2 separate regions of the Homo sapiens genome follow, and region 2 is linked to region 1. Evidence: fine-mapped expression QTL. A gene starts in region 1. The other region holds a variant in brackets. All regions are shown on one strand. Distances are between the middles of the regions.

Region 1 (5,382 bases):
CATGGCAATGTACGTTTTGCCTAGGGATAAAGAATTGTCTTAAAGTAGATAAAATACAACTGAAGGTTTAAGCAAACTGGGGAAAAAATTGTAAGAATTAATCTTGCAAAGGAAACTCTGTGTGAATATATTGACTACATTCAAAAGGGTATTATGTGGTTTTCTGTAAATTGAGCATTGAAATAAAAGCACAACAAAGAACTCTTAATGCATGAATCTACTCTTTAGCAAAATTTGTAAAGGGTTATAAAAGGTTTGTGAAAATCTCACCTCATTGTCAAACTGGTTAAGATTGGATAGAATTGCCTATAATTGTTTCATTAAAAATTGTGGTTGACATTAATAGTACACTAATGTAAGGGTGAAATTTGGCTTTCTCTCTCTTGAACACAATTTTCATGTAATAGTAAAGGCTAATGAAAGGTTTTTGCTTTTTCAAATTTTTGAGTCATCATTTTGGCAAAATAAATAACTTATAGTAATCTGGAATTCTAGTACATAACATCAAATATTTTAAGCCTGTTAACATATTTAACAGGCTTCCACAAATCAATTGTCTTTCTTGACACCTACGTTTTGGATGCTACAGAGGGTCCCTGGGGCATCCAGAAAAGAGGCAAGCAGGATTATTTGACATGTTTTGTTACATGGGATTGCCAAAATGATGTCTAATCTTCTTCAGGTTATATTTCAGCAAATACTATTAATATGTGTTCCAAAACTGCATGGGATTTAGAAAACTCTAATGTGAAAGTATACACTATCAACCACAATTAAGGTTGTTATGTTGTTATTGTAAACCACGGAGATAACCAAATTTTTTTTGTCAATCATGTTTTTGACTAACCACCCTGGACATTTTGTCATTTACAGACAATTGTTGTCTTGTTTTAATCCTCTTCAAAATATGGTTCATAATCAGATGTAGGAATACTTTAACAGGTATTCCTAAATGCAGGTTTCTGATAACTGAAAAACATACAGGACTCATGAAAAGCTAAAATGTTTATAAATATCAAGCAGAACAAGAGTTAACAGAATAGGCTGAACTAATAGAAAAACTGAAATAATCTTTTTGACTTTTGCTTGGAACATTGCTGATCCTTGTTTTGTTTTTCAGAGTCAAGGAAACTTCTTTTGAGCTAGCTACAGCCTTTAACAATTGAGTAAGGTTTACTCCTGAGAACAAAATTTGGAACATGTTTGTTTCTCTCTGCCTTATTGGTTCTTTAAGGACCACTGCAACATGGTCTTGGGAATTATACTTCAAGAAGCCTATAAGGTTAAAGGGTGTTTATACTCACAGTGATATAGGAATAGCACTGGGTGGTTGCAGGAGGATGGAAAAATTCGAACAACAAATAAAAACAAGAACTAGGCAAAGAAACCATAGGATAACAGAAAACCCAAAATAAGAGAAAGAATGGCCAAAATCCCAGTCAGGATGACATGTCCATGACTCTTCTGGGCAAAGCCAAATAAGAGAGAAAGGGGGCAGTAACCAGGTGGGTCCCTGAATTTCCCTCCTTTTCCAGAATACCTAATAATTATTCCACTCTCTAATTAAAGAAACACCCACAAAATAGGAATGCTGTGTGGTCACAGGAGAAGGGGGAAAACATCAAGCTGTTAAAATTAGCTACTCCAACAAGAAGACTGGGCTGATGAGACCTTAACAAACAGGATTGGGGCTAGGCTGTCCCATGACGCTAGATTTGACCCATTTCCTACCCCAGACCTAATTATACACTCATTGCCACATTAAATCACACACCCACCAGTGCCAGGCCAATCCAAGCACGCCCACATTTAGTATAAAAATGGTTGGCACCCCAATTCTAAGAAATTCCCACCTTTTCCTAGAAAAACCTCATGATTATCCCACCCCCTAATTAGAAGAGCCCATAAAATTAGAAACCCAAACTCCATTGTGCATGACCCGCTCTCCCTCGTACGTCCGCATTTCCCTCTTCTCTTGGGAAAAGTACACTCTTCTCAAAAATGTGTACTTTTTCTTCCCAATAAAAGCTTCTTGCCTTTGGCTTCATTTTGACTCATCCCTGCATTCTTTCTCACGATGGTGTCACGAAGCTGGACTCCGGAAGCGGGCGGGGACTCACGGCCCCTGGAGACCTTCCTGAGCCCTGGGCAACACCAGTCCACACAGAGGAGGCAGACGTCCCACAGACGGAACCCCACGAGCATGTCCCGGGAATGGCTCCACGCGGGAAGCGGGGGTCCAGATCCACGCCAGTCCCAGGGACAGTGCCTGGCGTCAGGGTGGAGGAGGACGCAGTAACCAGGCGTAAGATTTTACTGGTACATGGGAATGTCACTGGGTCACTCAGAGGAGGCAAGCGGGGAACCTCGTGGCAGGGCCCCCTTTATCAAACTCGTTTACCTGGGTGCCTGGGCGAGTGCTCACAGCCTGCTTGTAGGGACGTTGAGGCATCCGAATAATAGGAAGTTTTAAAAATTTACAATCCAGTGTGTACACTTGCTCCGCTAAGATCATCTGAGATATACAGAAACATGGTGTGCATAATAAAAAAGGAAAAAGAGCCAAGCCTGGCCTCTTACGGGACAAGACTACATTACCTAGAAGGCAGTGGGCCGGCGCAGGAAAAGGCGTGGCAGGCGACCGCGACACAGGGGCGGGACTTCCGGCCTCGCTGGCGTGGACGTTTGTGGTGGGGCGTGTTGGTCCGCGCTCTCAGAACTGTGCTGGGAAGGATGGTAGGGCGACTGGGGCTCACCTCCGCACCGTTGTAGGACCCGGGGTAGGGTTTTGAGCCCGTGGGAGCTGCCCCACGCGGCCTCGTCCTGCCAACGGTCGGATGGCGGAGACGAAGGACGCAGCGCAGGTGAGCAGACTGGCTCGGCTCCCCGCGGCCACCCGGCCTCAGTGTCCCGGGCCCGACGAGCGGAAGGACGGCGTTTCAGGGTCGTCCTCAGTGCAGTCCCTGCCGTTGCTTCTTAGAGGCCTAGAAGGGGGTCGCGCGGTCCCGGGTCCGGAATGCAGGCCCGCGGTGGCGTGGGGAGCGTCCCCGTTTCTGGGGTGCGCGGCGTTGTGGTATGAAATAGGGCTTTTAGGGTCCCGGAACCCCTCACAGGTGAGAGGAGCGACCGCAGTCCTCCTCGTGGCTCTTCCAACCATGTCCTTTCTCGGGCCTGCGACCTTGAACAAGTCCCGTTACTGTCCTCGTCCTTCATTTTTGCGCGCGCAAAGTAGAAATATTTACTCTTCCCCCCCCCGGGGTTGAGGAAGCTTGAACGGCTCCCTGGGTGATGTGTGTGTGTCCGTCTCAGTGCACAGCACGGTCCGGGGACGTCGCTCAGGATGTTGTTTCCGGAGCTGCTCCCTGGGCCTGTGCTAGGTTTGGAGACTCAACCCCAGCAGGAGTCTGACCCTCTGGCCTCCTTGGCCTCCTGTCTCTACAACACGAAGGGCAGCGGCTGAAAGAGGTGGGAGGAGCGTTTCTGCGGTTGCTGCTATGCCAGGGCAGAAAAGGTGGTAGGGCAGGCTGAGGAATTTGTCTTTCAGTTTAGGGCAAGGGACGCTGGGTTGCAACTAACAGTATATTTTCCTGTTTAAGACATTTAGTTACAGGTGAAAAACGAGTCCATTAAAATGTTCAGTGGCGATGGTATGCAGGATGTAGTGTCCCTTTGGAGATAACACATGAGGCCCAGGGTTACTCTCTAGCAGTCACTCTGATTACTTTCATGATAGCCCAGATTACTGTCAGCTCCTGTCGTAGTTGTTAATTTCTCATCCACCTCTCCCTCCTTTGCTTTATTTCTGACTCCCTCTGGTGTCCGCTGCTTAAAGAGGTCTCGTCTGTTGCACCGTTTAAAGCTGACCAGAGTCTCTTTGGTCTCCTTGCTCTGTTTTCTTGTCATCTGAATCTTTAAGGCCATCTGACATTGCCTTACTCATTTATTTAGTTGCCTGTTTAGGATCTTTTTCCAACCCTGGAATGTGAGTGCCTGTTGCTTCCCTCTCCCAAGACCCAGAACAGCCAGGCTTAAGTACATTTATTGTACTTAATAAATGGTTGATGATTGAATAGGCCTCTCTTATAGGGACTCTCATCACATTTCCAATAAATCCACCCCCTCCTACCAGCATGGTCTGCAAGGCTGTACTTGGTTTGCCCTTTTGACCGCATCTTCTTTCTCCTCTTCCATTGTCCCCTTTCTCACTGCATTCATCCAGGGAATCCTGAGCTTGCCAAGCTCTTTCCCATTTTCAGCCTTTGCCCTTGCACTTCCCTTTGTCTGAGACATTGTTCTCAGGTCTCTGCGGGGCTGCAGTTCCACACCCATCCTGGCAGTGCTGGCTGTAGCTAAAAGCACCCCTCACTCCCACCTGCCTGCTCTCTGGCAGCTTGGTGAGGTGTTTTAGCGGTGCTCAAATGCTGCTTTTGCTTTTTAAATGTGAGGCTGTGCCTGATTTCTAAAGCTCCCTGAGCCTTTGCTGACTGTGAAATGGAAGTGATAACGACATTTACCTCTGGGCCTGTCAGGGGATTAATAAAGTTCCCAAACACATCAGGCACTTACATGTGCTAGGCACTCCACTGATTGCCTAAGTGAACATTTTCTGTTTAGTTCTTAGAGCTGCCTGCTGAGATGGGAATAGTTATTGTGTTGATTCGGAAATCGAGCCTTAGAGAGATCATGTGACATCGTCATAGTCACATAGCTGGCAAGTGTCAGATTCAGGAGGCCTGATTTAAGTCAGGCCTTTATTTGCTTTACCACGGCTAAGGAAGCCTTAGCCTGGCAGGGACACAGTGAGGACCAGAGGACTTAGTGAAGGGTGCCTGCCCCTCTACACCTGTGGGTATTTCTTGCAAGGTGGAGATGAGAGACTGAGAAAAGAAATAAGACACAGAGACAAAGTATAGAGGAAGAAAAGTGGGCCCAGGGGACTGGCACTCAGCATATGGAGGACCCACACCAGCACCAGTCTCTGAGTTCTCTCAGTATTTATTGATCACTATCTCTACCATCTCCATGAGGGGGATGTGGCAGGACTATAGGGTAATGAGTGGGGAGAGGGTCAGCAGGAAAACATGTGAGCAAAGGACTCTGTGTCATAAATAAGTTTAAGGAAAGGTGCTGTGCCTCGATGTGCACGTAGGCCAGATTTATGTTTGACTTTACCCAAACATCTCAGTGCAGTAAAGAGCAGTATTGCCGCCAGCATGTCTTACCTCCAGCCATAAGGCGGCTTTCTCCTATCTCAGTAAATAGAATGTACGCTCGGGTTTTACACCAAGACATTCCATTCCCAGGGACAAGCAGGAGACAGATGCCTTCCTCTTATCTCAACTGCAAAGAGGCCTTCCTCTTTCATGAATCCTCGTCAGCACA
Region 2 (5,382 bases), 70 kb before region 1:
GGCTATTAGTAGTTAAGACCTAGGGGAGTCAAAAGTAATACAAGCATTTTCAATTCCGCAGGGGTCGGTATCCCTGACCCCTGCGTCGTTTAAGGGTCAGCTGTATATCAGTCTCTAGTGTAGAGGTTCACTTCAGTATTTAGACATCATTTCAGATTCCATGCAGCCCACCCCAGCAGATCTCCACTGGTAGTGGGAAGCGAAAAAACGTTATCTTATTGCTCTTCAAATGCATGCAGCCTGAAGTGTTAAAGTCACTTTTTGTAGGTTTTGTCAGGGACAAAAGACACCAGACAGGGCTACAATGGGAAGATAGTGGAGGGATAGTGGGCAGCCCTGAAGCCAACGGACAAGGGAAGTTCCCTGCTTCTGGTGCCCCCAGAAAACGCTCTCCTGCCTGCAAAGTCAGTTTTGTTCATAAAACATGAAGCTTTAATACATGAATGTTCATTTTCCTTGTATAATCAAAACATTTAATTTTTTTTTGAGACAGGGTCTCACTCTGTTGTCCAGGCTGGAGTACAGTGGAACAATCATAGCTCATTGCAGCCTCCACTTCCTGGGCTCAAGTGATCCTCCCACCTCAGCCTCTTGAGTAGCTGGCACTACAAGCACACCACCACACCCGGCTAGTTAAAAAAAAAATTATTGTAGGAATGGAGTCTCCCTATAGGGCCCAGGCTAGTCTCAAACTCCTAGGGCCATGCAATCTTCTTGCCTCAGCCTCCCAAACTGCTGAGATTACAAGCATGAGTCACCATGCCCAGACAAAAGTTTTTAATGCATAAAATATCAAATTATTATCATTATTTTAAACAGGGCCTCACTCCGTCGCCCAGAAAGTTTATATTATTTTAAGGTACATATATGCACATTGTTAAATGTACACATATACATTTTATATATATTAGATAGATCAAATTTTACGTTTCACAATAAAAATGATCCTTTAGGACAAATTAATACCAGTAAAATAAAATAAAATTAAAAGTTGTGAAATGATTTTATCAAATATATAATGTATTTGTTTACACATTTACTACAAAAATTTATAAGTGGAATGACTACTATTGTACATCTGGTTAGATCTCACAATGGGCTTGTCATTGTTTTTAGGAAAAAGGTTAGAGTTCTTGGCTGGGCCTATATTACAGAACCAACCATTACATATTGCTTCACCTCCTACCATGTATCTCCTCTATATCCTACACATGCTGAATTTCCTCAGATCCCTGAAAGCTGTGTGTGCATTCACATGCAGGGATCTTTCCAGGTTACCTTTTTCCTACCTGAGACTGCTGAATCCTATTGTGCTTTAAAAATTCATACTTTCAGGTAATCAACTGAGAAACTAGTGAAAAATGACATAACTGGCTGGGCACAGTGGCTCACACCTGTAATCCCAGCAGGTGTGATTGCTGCTCCCACCTTGGGAGGCCGAGGTGGGCGAATCACCTAAGGTCAGGAGTTCAAGACCAGCCTGGCCAACATGGTGAAACCCCGTCTCCATTAAAAATTCCAAAATTAGTCGGGCGTGGTGGTGGCACCTGTAATCCCAGTTACTCGGGAGGCCGAGGCAGGAGAATCAGAATCACTTGAACCTGGGAAGTGAAGGTTGCAGTGAGTCGAGATCGTACCACTGCACTCCAGCCTGGGTGACAGAGCAAGACTCCAAAAAAAAAAAAAAAAAAAGGACACAACTCTTTATGTCCAAATTCAATGTTTCCATCCATTGCACGTACTCAAAACTTCCCAGTACTCCTCATGAGGTAATGAAGCATAGGTTAAGTAAGTTTTGTATAATTGTGTAAATTTTTCAGGGCCGGGCTTGGTGGCTCATGCCTGTAATCCCAGCACTTTGGGAGGCTGAGGCAGGCAGATCACAAGGTCAAGAGATCAAGACCATCCTGGCCAACATGGTGAAACCCTGTCTCTACTAAAAAATACAAAAATTACCTGGGCGTGGTGGCGCATGCCTGTAGTCCCAGCTACTTGGGAGGCTGAGGCAGGAGAATCGCTTGAACCCAGGAGGTGGAGGTTGCAGTAAGCCGAGATCATGCCACGACACTCCAGCCTAGTGACAGTGTGAGACTCCGTCTCAAAAAAAAAAAAA[AG/G]AAAAAAAAGAAACATCTTAATTAAAAAACGAAATGGGCAAAGACTTTAGGTTTAGATACCTCACCAGAGAAGATACACAGATGGCAAATAAGTGTATGAAAAGATAATCCCCATCATATGTCATCAGGGAAGTAAAAATTAAAACAGCACTGAGATACCACTACACATCTATTAGAATGAACAACCTCTGTAACACTGACAACTGCAAATGGTTGAGAAAATGTACAGCAACAGGAGCTCTCATTGCTGACGGGAATGCAAAGTTGTACAGCCACTTTGAAATGGAGTTTGGTGGTTTCTTACAAAACTAAACACACTTTTACCATACAATACGGTAACCATATTTTTCAGAATTTATCCATATGAGTGGAAAATTTATGTCCACACAAAAACCTGTACATGTGTGTGTATAGCAGTTTTATCCAAAATTGGCATACTTTGGAAGCAACAAAAATGTCCCTCAGTAAGTGAATGGATTAGAAACTGTAGTATATCGCCAGGCGTGGTGGCTCACGTCTGTAATCCCAGCACTTTGGGAGGCCGAGGTGGGCGGATCATGAGGTCAGGAGATCGAGACCATCCTGGCTAACACGGTGAAACCCCCGTCTCTACTAAAAATACAAAAAAAAAAAAAAAAAAAAAAAATTAGCTGGGCATGGTGGCAGGCACCTGTAGTCCCAGCTGTTCGGGAGGCTGAGGCAGGAGAGTGGCGTGAACCCGGGAGGCGGAGGTTGCAGTGAGCCGAGATCACGCCACTGCACTCCAGCCTGGGCGACAGAGCGAGACTCCGTCTCAAAAAAAAAAAGAAACAAAGAAAGAAAAGAAACTGTAGTATATCTAGACAATGGAACATTACTCAATGCTGAAGGTAAATGAATCTTCAAGACGTGAAAAAACATGGAGGTACCTTGTATGCATACCACTAAATGAAAGAGGCCAATCTGAAAAGGCAATATACTGTATGATTCCAATTAATGACATTTGAGAAAAGGTAAAAGTATGAAAGAGTAAAAAGATCAGTGGTTGCTGGGGGTTTAGAAGGGTAGGAGGGATGAATTTGTGGAGCACAGAGGATTACTATTTTAGATGACACTCTAATAGTGGACACGTGTCATTGTACCTTTGTCCAAACACATAGAATGTACAACACTAAGAGTGAACCCTAAAGTAAAGTAGGGACTTTGGATGATAATGATGTGTCAGTGTAGGTTTATAATTGCTACAAATGTGCCACTGCGGTTGGGGTGAGGGGCGCTATGCTTATGTAGGTGCAGGGAGTATATGGAATATCTCTTTACCTTCCCCTTAATTTTACTGCAAACCTAAAAGTGCTCTTAAAAACCTAGTAATAAAAAAGATTGTGTCAGCACCATAAGGCAGGGTGGGAAAAAAAGATAAATTTCAAAAAAAAAAAAACAAAACAAAACTGTGGCTGCCTCAGAGCCATATTCTGCATCCTCTTGAAAGATAGTTGGGGATCAAAATTTTCCCCATAGGTGAAGTCACAAGTGGCATACCTTGTAAACCTTTTTATGAGGAGGAATAAGTGTCCAAAGAACAAGTATTTTACAGGATAGCAGTCCATGACCTGGCAATGTGATCAAGGGCAAGGAAGAATATGTTTGAGAAGACAGTTGACAAGGAGGTCTGAGATAATGGCATGTGAATGGATACATGGGTAATTGTGCACATTGGGGAGATTTTTGATGGTATAAAAACCATCACCAGTCACTCTTGAATTGTGCTTTGACCACATGATTTTTCACTTCCAGGCTTTTTGGACACTGTACTGGCTATTTCTTTTCCATAGCACATTTTCTCTGTGTTTACAAATCACTCTCTCTCTGCTGTGCTTTAAATATATGCTCAAATATTATCTCCACTATAAGGACAACCCTGACTATAGAAATTTCCTATAGAAATTCTACCTACTTCACGTGTTCGTTATTACTTGGTGCTGGTATTCTGATATTTTCCATAGAATCTGTCTCTTTATAACTTAGTGTATATTTTCCAATATTTTCTTTATTATTTCCAGACCACATCTCTTAATTTGAATAAAGCCTACTTGAGAATACATTTCTTTGTAGGTTGTTCACTGCTGTAAATACAAATCTAGATGAGCCTCTGAACCAGATAAGATGTTGAGTAATGCTTTCCCTCAACTCTTTCACCTTTGTACTCTCACTCTCTTTTTACTATTTCTTTCCTTCCAAGTTTGTTATTCCTCACCATTCATATGAATGAAAAAATGTCAGACTTTGTAGAAATAAGAATTTCGGCTGGGCGCGGTGGCTCACGCCTGTAATCCCAGCACTTTGGGAGGCCGAGGCGGGCGGATCACCTGAGGTCAGGAGTTCAAAACCAGCCTGGCCAACATAGCAAAACCCCATCGCTACTAAAAATACAAAAATTAGCCAGGTGCAGTGGTGGGCGCCTGTAATCCCAGCTACTTGAGAGGCTGAGGCTGAAGAATTGTTTGAACCTGGGAGGCGGAGGTTGCAGTGAGCCGAGATCGCGCCATTGCACTCCAGCCTGGGCGACAGAGCAAGACATCTCAAAAAAAAAAAAAAAAAAAAAAAAAAAAAAATTTCATAGGAGCCAAGATTCCAGCATAACCAAGGGTTCAACTTACATGTCCCATGTCTTAGAACTGTTTCCTCTATTTACCTTTATTTGTTCCCATTTCACAGATAATTTTCTCTTTTAGGTATGATGTCATTCTAAATGGATAACTCCAGTAATTAATGTTAATAACTTTCTACAATTTTCTAACTTCAAAAATTTTTTTCAGAGATCATCTCCAATCCTCTTGGAGACACTGTCACTGCAATTACAGGTGGAAGAATAAAATGACCATCACTTCCCAGCAAGGAGATGAGGTCATGGAATCCCAAACCTTATTCTCAGAGTTCAGATGCCCATGCCAAAAACTGATGCTACTTTCCTAGTAGCAAATACCAGTTTGGTAAGTAACCACTATTTCTACATAAATGTCATATTCTTCAAAAAGTAGATTATATCTTGGAGAATCCAGTAAGAAATGTTATACAAAAAATTGTAATTTTGAGGTTTAGAATACAAATACTCAGAAGGAACATACTATGAGGGACTCAGAAGCATAGACCACCTCATGCATTTGCTTTAGTGCCCCTAGAATCTCTATTCCATATTTTCTCTTATAACGTGTCTGGATTAGCCTCCATTTCATCCCTGACCTAATACTCTGAACTTCACACAATCACTCGAAGAGTTTATTTGCCTGTG

Evidence for each region.
Region 2: its variant is fine-mapped to the expression of ZNF550 in lymphoblastoid cells after a statin (CAP, PIP 0.95).

The regions. Positions count from the first base shown.
Region 1 is chr19:57,557,138-57,562,519 of GRCh38, reverse strand. ZNF550 (zinc finger protein 550) reads left to right here and starts at 2,657. Exons shown (of 4, transcript NM_001397372.1): 1 at 2,657-2,864. The coding sequence starts at 2,838. It overlaps LOC124904781 (a long non-coding RNA gene), which reads right to left and starts at 2,578. Exons shown (of 2, transcript XR_007067357.1): 1 at 2,402-2,578. RefSeq lists enhancers at 2,296-2,405, 1,350-2,549, 3,036-3,085, 2,527-3,391, 3,536-3,615.
Region 2 is chr19:57,627,069-57,632,450 of GRCh38, reverse strand. No RefSeq gene overlaps it. Among named protein-coding and RNA genes, the nearest start is that of ZNF211, 3.4 kb to the left of the region's middle. The variant AG/G (reference allele first, on the strand shown) is at 2,114.